Linked DNA regions of Homo sapiens: region 1 is linked to region 2. The links come from fine-mapping of genetic effects on gene expression. Tissue or cell type: atrial appendage. Region 2 holds a variant in brackets; the other region holds the start of a gene. All regions are shown on one strand. Distances are between the middles of the regions.

Region 1 (2,757 bases), 34 kb after region 2:
GGCTGGGGAGGCAACAACAACGATTTGCTCTTCCAAAAGAGTGGCTCTAATTTTGATTACTGCGTCGGCGAACCCATCCGCAGAACAGAAAACAAAAACTGACCAACGCAGTTGCCATTCACCTTTGTCCAAAGGCAAAAGGTGAAAAGTCACGACACATATTGCCATAGAAGAGAAGGCAATTCAACCTGCCAACCAATCGACTAATTCTCAGCTCCTTCCAAAAATAAAAATAAAAATAGGAGAAAGGGGGCTGCCGCTGGGCTGGCCGATGCCTGGCCGCCGAGTGCGCCGCGCTCCGCAAGCTCCCGCCACCCGCCGCGCTCCAGGACCCTCGGGTTTCGGCCCAGTTATCACAAAGCCCCGGGCTGGAAAACACCTCCGGCCTGGCCAGAATGGCCAGCCCGTCCTCCGCGCTCGCCCGGGGGGATAATGGTGGCGAGATCAACTCCAAGGGCTCCCGAGCCCCGCGATAAAGAGGCTGGATATTACGGGAGGAAGGACGCTGTGGAAGAATAACGGAGTCCCAAACTTTCCTTCCACACCTCCAGAGCCCCGCGCCCAGGCCCGGTCCCCACCGGCCCGAAGTTGGCCGGAGCGCCTCCCGGGAGCTTGGGGCCTCCGGGAGCCCCTGCCACGCGCCCGCCCGCCAGAGCGGGGCTAGCCCTCCCCGCCGGCCGCGGCCGACTCCCGCCCCGGTCCGAGTTAATCCCGCGCGGGCCCCCCCCCCGCGCCCGGCCCCGCCGGAGCAGCTGGCTCGCGCCTCAATGGCACCGGGCGGCGAGCGCGCGCAGCCCTCGCGCCCACACCCAGCCCCAGCCCACCGGAGAAGTCCCGGGAGGGTCGCCGGGTCCCGCTCCCGCTCCCTCTCCCACAAAAGCACGGGCCCGCCCCGCCCTCGCGGTGCCTGCTCCTCCACCCCAGGATCCGGCGTCCCCGGCCCGACGCCCCTCGGCACCCGGGCACAGCCCGGCGGCCCCCGCCCGCCCTCCTGCCCTTTTGCGCCCTCCTCCTGGCCCCCGACTCCCGGCCGAAGTCCCTCGGGCCCCGGCCCCTCTGCGCGACGGCCCGGGACACCCCGCGCGGGGCAGGGGGAGCAGGGGGCGCAGCGCGCCGCCTCCCGCCCGCGCGGCCACTCACCTCGATCTCGAAGTCGGGCAGGCGGAACGCGGTGCGAAAGAGCGAGCAGAAGTGCGCGATGGCCGGGACCTCCCACCAGGAGCGGAGCTCGCCCAGCCCGGCCGCGCCGCCCTCCTCTGGGCACATCTCCCCGCTGCGGCACAGGCGGCGGCCCCTCGCTGCCCGCGCTCTGCCCGCCGACCTGGGACTCCCGCCGCGGCAGCGCCGCAGCCTCCGCGCGGTCCTCGGCGGGGGCGGCGGGGCGCTCCTCCCGCTGCTGCCGCCGCTCGGCGAGTGCAGGAGCCGAGGGCGGGCGCCGGGCGGGGGGCGGCGGCGCGGGGGCCCGAACTACTGAGGCGGCTGCGGCTGCGGCTGCCCGCGGGGTCCGCGCGCTCGCCCCATCCCGCGGCTGCGGCGGCGGCCGCCCCCAGTCCCCTACAATATAATCGAGTCCCCGCCGGAGAAACAGATGGGGCTAGGGGCGGAGGGGCCGGACGCGGGGCCTGGGGGAGGGGCCGCCCACGAGGAGGGGGCGGGGCTGCCCGCGCCACAACAACAACCCCCGCCCCCGCCCCACCCCCGCCCGGACAGCTGCACCGCCAGGGAGGGGGAGGGGCGGGGCGCGCGCCCCCGGGCCCAGATCCGCAGGACCCAGGGGGCGCGGGCCGCACCCCCGAGAACTCTCACGAGGCGCCCTCCGCCCTCCAGGACTTTGGGACTGGGGAGTTGAAGCACTTTCCCAAGGGAGGACGGCCAGGAGCTCTCCCACCCCCACTTGGCCTGAGTGGTCGCGTCCTTTTAAAGGGCCCGCGGGGTGGTCCTTTCGGTCGGGCTAGAGACAGAAACGTGCACGTGTGGGAGTTCAGTTATTATTGATGCCGAGGGCAGAGCCGGAGCAGGAGCGGGCTGTCCACCCTAGAAATATGAAGCCTAGAGAAGTGAAGTGCTTTCCACCTGTTTCTTAACGCTTTTATTCCAGCCGAGAACGGCGCCCAAGGAGCTCTGAAGTGGCTTTTTTCTCCGAGGGAAGAAGGCGGTGGGGCTGATTGAGCTGGAACGAAGTAGGATGGAGGCTGGAGAGCGGCGGGAAGGGTGGGGTAGGGGGAGGCACCAATCAGCAGCCAAGCGGGAAGAGCGATCCCCAACCCCAGGGAATGGACACGTGTGACCGCCCCGGAGAAGACGGGCTCGGAACCCTGCTACTGCCCGGCCGCTGAAAGAGCTGCCTGGAAGAGTGAGCACAATGTGCTTGGAAGGCGGGGGGATGGGGCAGAGGAGATCGGGAAGCCGGGGACTGTGCTCGGAGGGGAGGAGACCCCCACGCCCCGGCGGAGGGATTGAATGTGCTACGGCCGAAGGGTGTTGGAGTGTGTGCTTTAGAAATGCTAACTGCTGTAGCGCGGTGGAGTACTGCTAAATCCTAAGAAAAAAAATCACCCCAGAAACAGGCTAGAAGTTTGGAAAAACTCCATTGAATGCTCAGATATTTGTATTGGTCGTCGCACTTGCATCCTGCTGGTCTCAGAGGGCCGCCTCTGAGTTCGGTGGTCCACCTTTCAGATAGGAAACACTGCTCCTGGTGCGTCCCCCAAATTAATCAACTATTTATTGAGTGACAGGCACAATCACAAAGTGTAC
Region 2 (2,757 bases):
CGCTCTCGTTGCCCATGCTGGAGTGCCATGGCGCAATCTCGGCTCACTGCAACCTCCACCTCCCAGGTTCAAGCGGTTCTCCTGCCTCAGCCTCCTGAGTAGCTGGGATTACAGGCGTCCACCACCATGCCCAGCTAATTGTTTGTATTTTTTAGTAGAGACAAGGTTTCACTATGTTGGCCAGGCTGGTCTTGAACTCCTGACCTCAGGTGATCCGCCTGCCTCAGCTTCCCAAAGTGCTGGGATTACAGGTGTGAGTCACCATGCCTGGCCTAAAACTTTCAAAAATGTATAATAGCATCAAAAAGAATGAAATACTTTGGGATAAATCTGACAAAAGATGGGAGATACCTAAAGAGTTGAGAATTTGAATATAAAACTTTTCTGTCAGAAATCAAAGAAAACCTAGAGAGAGAGAGGTACCATCATCATGGGTCAGAAGACTCAATAGTGTTAAGAGGCCCATTTTCTACAAATTGACCTAGATATTCAATACAACTCCAATCTAAATGCTAGCAGGCTTTTTTTGTAGAAACTGATAAGCTAATTCTAAAATTCATATGGAAATATAAAAAATATAAAATAGCCAAAGCAACTTTGAAAATGAACAAAGTGAGAGGACTAACATTATTTGATTTCACTACTTATTAAAAGCTGCACTAATTAAGATACTGTGATATTGTCTTGAAAACAGAACAGAGTGAACAATGACATAGAACAGGGTCCAGGGCCAGGCGCGGTGGTTCACGCCTGTAATCCCAGCACTTTGGGAGGCCGAGGCGGGTGGATCACGAGGTCAGGAGATCGAGACCATCCCGGCTAAAACGGTGAAACCCCGTCTCTACTAAAAATACAAAAAATTAGCCGGGCGTAGTGGCGGGCGCCTGTAGTCCCAGCTACTGGGGAGGCTGAGGCAGGAGAATGGCGTGAACCCGAGAGGCGGAGCTTGCAGTGAGCCGAGATCCCGCCACTGCACTCCAGCCTGGGCGACAGAGCGAGACTCCGTCTCAAAAAAAAAAAAAAAAAAAAAAAGAAAGAACAGGGTCCAGAAATGAACCCACATGTATATGGAAAACTGACTTGGGCAACTAATAAAGGATAGTCTTTTTTTTTTTTTTTTTGGCAGGGGGGTCGGGGGGATGGGGACAGAGTCTCGCACTGTCATCCAGGCCGGAGTGCAGTGGCACGATCTCGGCTCACTGCAACCTCCACCTCCTGGGTTCAAGAGATTCTTCTGCCTCGGCCTCCCAAGTAGCTGGGAGTACAGACGTGCAACATGACGCCCGGCTAATTTTTGTTATTTTTAGCAGAGACGGGGTTTCACCACATTGGCTGGACTAGTCTCAAACTCCTGACCTCGTGATCCTCCTGACTC[CATCTCCCAA/A]AGTGCTAGGATTGCAGGTGTGAGCCACTGTGCCCGGCCAGGGTGGTCTTATCTACAAATGCTACTAAACACATGCCCCCTCCCCACTCAAAAAAAACCCCACCAACTTCGATCAGTACTTTATATCATATGCAAATTATCAATTCAAAATGAAGCACAGACTTAAATGGTAAATCTAAAACAATAAAACTTCTAGAAGAAAATGTAAGAAACAAACCTTTGTGACCTTAGATTAGGAAAAAGCAAAACCAGAATATATAACAGCTCAATAGACAAAGAGTCCAATTTTAAAATGAGCAGAATACCTTAACTAGAAGATCACCAAAGATATAAATAGCTAACACAGAAAAAGGTGAACATTATTAATGATAAGGGAGATGCAGATCAAAACCACATTAAAATAGCCCTTCGCCCCCCACTACTGAATAGTGATAAGCAAAAGGACAGGAAATAACAAGTATTGATGATGTGAAAAAACTAGAGCCCCTTATTCACTACTGTTGAAAACAAACTGGTGTGTTTACTTTGGAAAACAAGTTTGCCAGTTTCTTTAGAAGTTAAAACATAACTCCAATTCTACTACTAAGTATTTGTCCAAGAAAAAAAGAAAGCACACACTTACAAGCAAATACGTGCAGCTATTATCTATAATAGCCCCAAACAAAAACAATCCAAAAGCAAAAACAATACATCATCTGGTGAATGGATAAAAAGTGGGTATAGCCAAACAATGGCAGTACCAAAAGAAAAAAATGAGGACATGTCTAAAGGAGAAAGGAGTCAACCTGAAAGAATTTCCAATGGCCAAAGCTTGAAATAATTTGAGCAGCTAAGTAAACAGTATTAGATTCAAACCCAAAGGATAAGTATCAATGAGTCCACGCTGATGACAACAGACTTAAGGAGACATGCGATGTCAGGTGGAATGCAGGAACAAATCTTGAAATGAAAAGATGGGGAAACTGCCGGGTGCGCTGGCTCACGCCTGTAATCCCAGCACTTAGGGAGGCCGAGGCGGGTGGATCGCCTGAGGTCAGGAGTTCGAGACCAGCCTCAACATGGAGAAACCCCGTCTCTACTAAAAATACAAAATTAGCTGGGCGTGGTGGCACATGCCTGTAATCCCAGCCACTCAGGAGGCTGAGGCAGGAGAACTGCTTGAACCCGGGAGGCGGAGGTTGCAGTGAGCCGAGATTGCGCCACTGCACTCCAGCCTGGGCAACAAGAGTGAAACTACGTCTCCAAAAAAAAAAAAAAAAAAAGAAGAAAAGAAAGAAAGAAAGAAAAGAAAAGATTGGGAAACTGTTGGAATCTAAACAGTCTGAAGTTTAGTTCATAGTACTGCACCAATGTGAATGTCTTAGTTTTAACAA

Direction of the effects. Positions count from the first base shown, and alleles are read on the strand shown. Sizes are in standard deviations (SD) of each study's normalised expression.
With allele A in place of CATCTCCCAA in region 2, the expression in atrial appendage of the gene that starts at base 1,590 in region 1 is higher (small effect, 0.20 SD a copy in GTEx).

The links. PIP is the estimated chance that this variant, and not a neighbour inherited with it, causes the effect.
Region 1: it holds the start of CECR2, and the variant in region 2 is fine-mapped to the expression of CECR2 in atrial appendage (GTEx, PIP 0.94).

What each region holds. Positions count from the first base shown.
Region 1 is chr22:17,368,293-17,371,049 of GRCh38, reverse strand. CECR2 (CECR2 histone acetyl-lysine reader) reads right to left here and starts at 1,590. Exons shown (of 19, transcript NM_001290047.2): 1 at 1,141-1,590. The coding sequence starts at 1,266. RefSeq lists silencers at 1,153-1,252, 1,263-1,332.
Region 2 is chr22:17,402,644-17,405,400 of GRCh38, reverse strand. All of the region lies in intron 1 of CECR2 (CECR2 histone acetyl-lysine reader), which reads right to left. Among named protein-coding and RNA genes, the nearest start is that of CECR2, 35 kb to the right of the region's middle. The variant CATCTCCCAA/A (reference allele first, on the strand shown) is at 1,376.